2 separate regions of the Homo sapiens genome follow, and region 1 is linked to region 2. Evidence: fine-mapped expression QTL. A gene starts in region 2. The other region holds a variant in brackets. All regions are shown on one strand. Distances are from middle to middle. Region 1 overlaps CCDC28A-AS1 (CCDC28A antisense RNA 1). Region 2 holds the start of CCDC28A-AS1 (CCDC28A antisense RNA 1).

Region 1 (2,916 bases), 33 kb after region 2:
ACCACCTGTTCCACATGGCTGGCCCAGCATCAGAGGAGGTGTGGGAGTGACAGAGCGGGGTATAGACACTGCCAGCAGGGTATGGTCAGGACCTGGTGGAATGAGGAACTGGGGAGGGGCACTCACGTGGGAGGAGAAAGGGAAGGCTCCTTGGAGGAGATGGTCTTAGAGCTGAACCTTGCAAAACTGTGCTCTGACCCACGAAGCCTCCCATGCATGGGTGAGATTTGGGAAAGGAAAATGTGGGACTGTGAAGACCTCCAAGTGCCAGTAAGGAGGGTGTCAGACAGATCTGTGTATCTGGAATATTCCTTAGGGGCTGGCGAGAGGTCTGGACCAGAGGGGAAGACTGAGGGTGGGGAGGCCTCGAAGGAGGATGGGCATGGTCCAGGCCGTAGAGAATGGGGCTCAAGTCTAGGCAACTAGGAGGAGCAGATACACAGGGAAGGTACAAAGGCAGGTTTGGGACATGTTCACTCTGAGGGGGCTGGACCCTGGGGGCAGGGACCTAGAAGCATCTTATGGGCTAAAGACAAAGATGGTCCAGGAAGCATCAATGTGTGGTGGGGGATGGAGGCACTGAAGCTGGGAGAGAGGATGACGTCTCCCCAGAACACAGTGGAGAACAAGGCCTGAGACTGAGCCCTGGGGCTCCTAACATCTCAAAGATGGCAGAGAACACAAGAAAGTGACAAATACTCTGGATGCCCAAGTAGGAGGTGAACCAGGTAAGGGTGGTGTCCTAGCGGTGGAAAAGGGAGAAGCATCAAGGAGCAGTGATGGAGTTCTTGGCATCAAAAGCTGCTGGGATGTGTGAAAGGACAGCCATGCAGATCCCAAAGTCATGAGGGAGGAAAGCTGAGAGTTGGGGCTGGGGACTGAGGGCTTGGCTGCTCTGAGTGAGGTTAAGCAGGGATGGGGAGGGAAGATGGGGACCCTGGTTGGGGGACTGAGGGTGGCTAAAATGAAAATGAAAAAAATATGTCACTATTAGCCATCATGATCTATCTGGTATTTGCAGGAGTCATATAGGTAAATTAAACAGGGATGTGATGGAAACCAACACGTCTGCATCCTTTAAATATCTGAGTTGTGCTTATTCCCAGAATTCCTCTTGGGATGTGTTTCTGATTTGCTATCTTGGCACTTTGGTGGCAGGAGGCGTTTTTCAGGGTTATTTTCTAGCTACTCTTACCATAATAACTTTTGGTAATAGGTCAATAACTTTTGACAATAGGTCAGGGGCTGTAAAAATTTGGCCAGCTGTTAAGTGTGTCCATTCAAACTTCACATATGAGAACTGGGGATATAGCCACAGAATAGGTTATTTCCTATTCTTCAGGATTCTATTTTGTAGAATTTTTGGACTCACAGTGATATGGCTTCTCTGTGTCCCCACCCAAATCTCATCTTGAATTCCCACGTGTTGTGGGAGGGACTCGGTGGGAGGTAATTGAATCATGGGGGCAGGTCTTTCCCATGCTGTTCTCGTGATAGCGAATAAGTCTCATGAGATTCTTCGGTATTATAAGGGGGAGTTTCCCTGCCCAGTCTCTCTCTCTGCCTGCCGCCATCCATGTGGAATGTGACTTGCTCCTTCGTGCCTTCCGCCATGATTGTGAGGCTTCCCCAGCCATGTGGAACTGTAAGTCATTAAATCTCTTTCTTTTGTAAATTGCCCAGTCTTGGGTACATCTTCAGCAGCAGCGTGAAAACGGACTAATA[CG/G]CATAGTAACGAGGACTAGGGCCAGAACTGCATTTATTACCTGGCCTCCATACGTCCTTTCTCTACCCAGTGGTCTATGATGGCATTTTATGTTTGCTTGTTTTGGTGGCAGTTCAGACCCTGTTATGTAATAGTCCTCAAAATGCCTGGAAAATGCCTTTCCCCAGTGTACGGTTTTTTTAGTAAATGGCTGCAAGAGCTTTTGGGGAATAATTGGGGGAATGTTTATCGTACATACTTGAGCAGGTTTTAGATGGTCCTTCCTCAAGGAGACATATACTCCTCTTTGATCACAGGCTGTCACCTATGAACTGGCTAAAAACTGGGTGAGAGACCACAATATTTTTCCACTTTGCAGCCGATGTCAGTCTTCTCTTCAATTGTTTTGTGTTTTATTTTATAAGGTAAATAAGTAACATCCTGATTGATTGGGTATCCATCTGTCTTGCTCCTAGGAACAGCATGATCTATTAACCATCACCACAGATGTCTGTAGGTCAAGCCACTCTGATCGCCATTCCAGCCTTGCTATCTATTATAGCAGTGATGTCCGTATTGCCTCTGTTAGGTGCCACTCCCTGGCCTCTGCCATTCCAGAATCTTATTACGTCCATTGATACTAGAAGGCCAGTTTCAAGACTGCATCTCTTCAACGTATAGAAGAAATGTGTCATTGAGTTTCTGAAAGATCCCAGTACAAACTTCCTTGGTGCATTTCTTACTGCTTTAGTGAAGCAAATATCTTTCAGGGATTCCTGGGAAATATAATCAGATAGTGGGTTTTCTGATCATATTTAATAAGTGTAATACATATTTTTTTGTTTTAACATTTTCACTGCCATGTGCCTTATTACTCCCTCCTCAATATTCTGCCAAAGTAGTTCTGGCTTCTCCACCTCATTTACATAGGACATCAACATGGCCAAGAGTCAAGAGCAGCATATTAGAGTAACTCTGGTGGGATGCAGTGGCTCACACCTATAATTCCAGGAGGATTGCTTGAGTCCAGGAGTTCAAGACCAGCTTGTGCAACATGGCAAGATCCCGTCTCCACAAAAAATAAGAAAATGTTTAGCTGGGTATGGTGGTACACTCCTGTGGTCCCAGCTACTTGGGGGGCTGAGGCAGGAGGGTGGCTTGAGCCCAGGAGATGGAGGTTGAAGTGAGCCATGATCACGCCTCTGCACTCC
Region 2 (2,916 bases):
ATTTAAAAAATACCCTTCCGGCCGGGCTCACGCCTGTAATCCCAGCACTTTGGAAGGCCAAGGCGGGCGGATCACGAGGTCAGGAGATCGAGACCATCCTGGCTAACACGGTGAAACCCCGTCTCTACTAAAAATACAAAAAATTAGCCGGGAGTGGTGGCGGGCGCCTGTAGTCCCAGCTACTCAGGAGGCTGAGGCAGGACAATGGCATGAACCCGGGAGGCGGAGCTTGCCCTGAGCCGAGATGGTGCCACTGCGACAGAGCGAGACTCCGTCTCAAAAACAAAACAAAACAAAACAAAACAAAACAAAAAAACCCCTTCCATACTTTATTTGTGCATAGTGTTAAATTTTTCTTAACTTCATTATTTCATATATCATAAGATGAATTTATATGGCTATCTCTACCTCATCAGGTTGTAAATTGCCTTCTAGAAACATTAGGCCGTTTTTGGCATGCTGTGTTTAATTTAGGCATGCCATGACCATTCAAAAAGATTCAAACCCATTGCTGTCGCTTAAAATAATTATTTGATGAATTCAATAAATTTTTCTTTTTCCTTTTGCCTGGACTTAGTGCCACTGGCACTGGAATTTAAACCACTGAGCTTAAATTGGCTGACGCTAGACAATTACAACTGGAGCTACAATACTGCCAAAGAAGAGGCTTTCTGGGAAAGGCTCCAATGCCCAGTCTCTAATCCCAGATACCACTGGGTGTCAATCCACTTAAACCTTGGCTAACAATTTTTCTTTTAAGAAGCATTTTTTGTAACAGAACAATAATTCTGGTGTTGTTTCAACATGCAACACAAATTAAATGAGAGTTTGAAAGATGACTGAATAGAGACGATTAGTTCTCTGAAGAGGCAAGGATCTGTAAAAATGTATGATACGCATAAACACGCTGGCCTGAAATTTAACGATGCTAATACACACTTGGTGGTACAAGAAAAAAAAATCTAGGAAGTAAAGCAATGCAAATAAACCAGTGGTGGTCTAAACCACAATATTCTGCGGAGCCAGCACTCGCGATTTCCTCGTTTTTGGAAAATTACATCTGTCACAAGAGCACTGAAACCCTTCCTGTATATCAAACAGCAAAGAATGTTTTAGAGAAGGCATAATAAGTAAACTGCTCATAGTTACTTATTCACACAGTGGTTTTAAGTGCCAGGTCTTGCCTCCAAGCAGTACCACTGGGCATCCCTCTTGACATCACCTCATTCCCCTTCCCCAATCTACCGAAGCGATGACCCTTCACCGCCCAGTACCCAGCAGTGACCAGAGTGGTGGGAAGGGCCTAAAGGGGCAGGTTGCGGAGGTTCCTTTGCTTCCACTACATACCTGAAGAAGAAGGGTATTGGGGCCCCCTTCCGCAACCCGCAAAGACCCGACAGCCTCAGAAGCCACCGCCGCAGCCACAAGCAGAGCCCCGGTCACATCCCGGGACCCGCTCCTCCGCAGCTCCGTTTGTTTACGGAAGTGACGTAAGAGGTACAGCCTCCATGCCCCAAGCGGAAGCCCCGCCTTTTCCTGCTCCCCCAGTGTCGCTCTTGGCTCCGCCCTCGGCATTTCATTGCTTCCCCTGTCCTTCCTTTAGCTGTAACTCCGGCGGGCGTGTTGGGTGTGTCGTTTTAGGCTCTGTGACCCAGGAGCAAGACGCAATAAGCGGGTGCAGTGGAGGTAGAAACGGGAAATGCAGTACCCTTTCCGGAAGCTACTCCGCCCCTCGGTGAGTGTTAGATTCCCCCCCCGAACTACAATTCCCAGAATGCTGTTCGAGCATGCCCGAAGGCGGAACCAGAGTGTCGCCATGCAACTGTTCCTTGGTTGTTTCCGATTGGTTGCCCGGACTTCTCGCGGCTAAACTAATTTTGGCTCCAAGGCGGCGTGAAGAGTGTGATTCTGTTCAGCGACCGTGATTCTGTTCAGCGACCATGATGTTGAGCCCCTAATTGAGAGTCTGTTACCACTATTAATAGCTACTCTGTTCGGGCCCTACACATAACGGTGTATCTAAACCTCTCTACAATTTTATGGGTAGGTGTTATACTCTCTGTTTTACAAATGGGGAATTTGAGGCTCAGAAAGGCTAATTGATGCAGGTGTCTCTCTGTCGTCAAAGATAGTTCTACTTCCACTATACTTAAAGCCTCTGGAGAAGGAATTGCAGGCTGAGAGAAAGAGATCTATCTTAAATGAGGGAAGAAATGCACGTTTCATTGCCTGGTCTGGGTAGCCTTCCCGGTGTTGGAGTGGGAGGTGGGAAGGTTTTAGATTCACAGGTCCTTAGATTGAAGGGACTCTGGAGGAACACCACATAGCACCCCCCGCATTAGCTAATGGGGAAACCATATCTAGAGATTGTATCCATGCCAGAAAAGGCAGAGCAAAGACAACCCCAGTCTCTTGGCTTCTAGGATAGGATGTTCTTCCGCCACCCGCCATTTAAAAAAAAAAAACAAAACTATTGAAATGTTAAAAAAAAAAAGCACAGAATAAACAACGCACCCACTATCCAGAACGAACAGATTTATGAATGAAAGAAATGGAGCATTACAGATAAAGAAGGTGTTCCCTATTCTCAGTCCCATTCTACTACCACCCTCAGAGAGGCAACCAGGATCATGAATTTGATATGTATCTTGCCAATCTAGGTTTCTATATTTAAACTATTACTATGTATTATAAACAATATGTAGAATGGTTTGGGGCATTTGAAGTTTTACATGAATGCTATTATATTTTGTGTATTGATCTGCAACTTGATTTTTTCACCAAATTCTGTGTTTTTGAGAGCTATCCACATTGATAAATATAGCTAGACTTTATCAAATAGATTTGTCACAAATTATTTGGGAATTCCCATAGTGATGGATGTTTAGGTTGTTTCCCATTTTTCACCATTACAAA

The links. PIP is the estimated chance that this variant, and not a neighbour inherited with it, causes the effect. A credible set is the group of variants that fine-mapping cannot tell apart.
Region 1: its variant is the best candidate, but not a certain one, in a credible set for the expression of CCDC28A-AS1 in thyroid (GTEx, PIP 0.51).

Annotation. Positions count from the first base shown.
Region 1 is chr6:138,739,241-138,742,156 of GRCh38, reverse strand. The region is part of intron 2 of CCDC28A-AS1 (CCDC28A antisense RNA 1); the gene reads left to right. Among named protein-coding and RNA genes, the nearest start is that of CCDC28A-AS1, 33 kb to the left of the region's middle. The variant CG/G (reference allele first, on the strand shown) is at 1,726.
Region 2 is chr6:138,772,334-138,775,249 of GRCh38, reverse strand. CCDC28A-AS1 (CCDC28A antisense RNA 1) reads left to right here and starts at 1,547. Exons shown (of 3, transcript NR_161205.1): 1 at 1,547-1,735. It overlaps CCDC28A (coiled-coil domain containing 28A), which reads right to left and starts at 1,481. Exons shown (of 6, transcript NM_015439.3): 1 at 1,348-1,481. RefSeq lists enhancers at 1,169-1,228, 1,589-1,648, 1,669-1,718, 1,082-1,755, 1,756-2,430.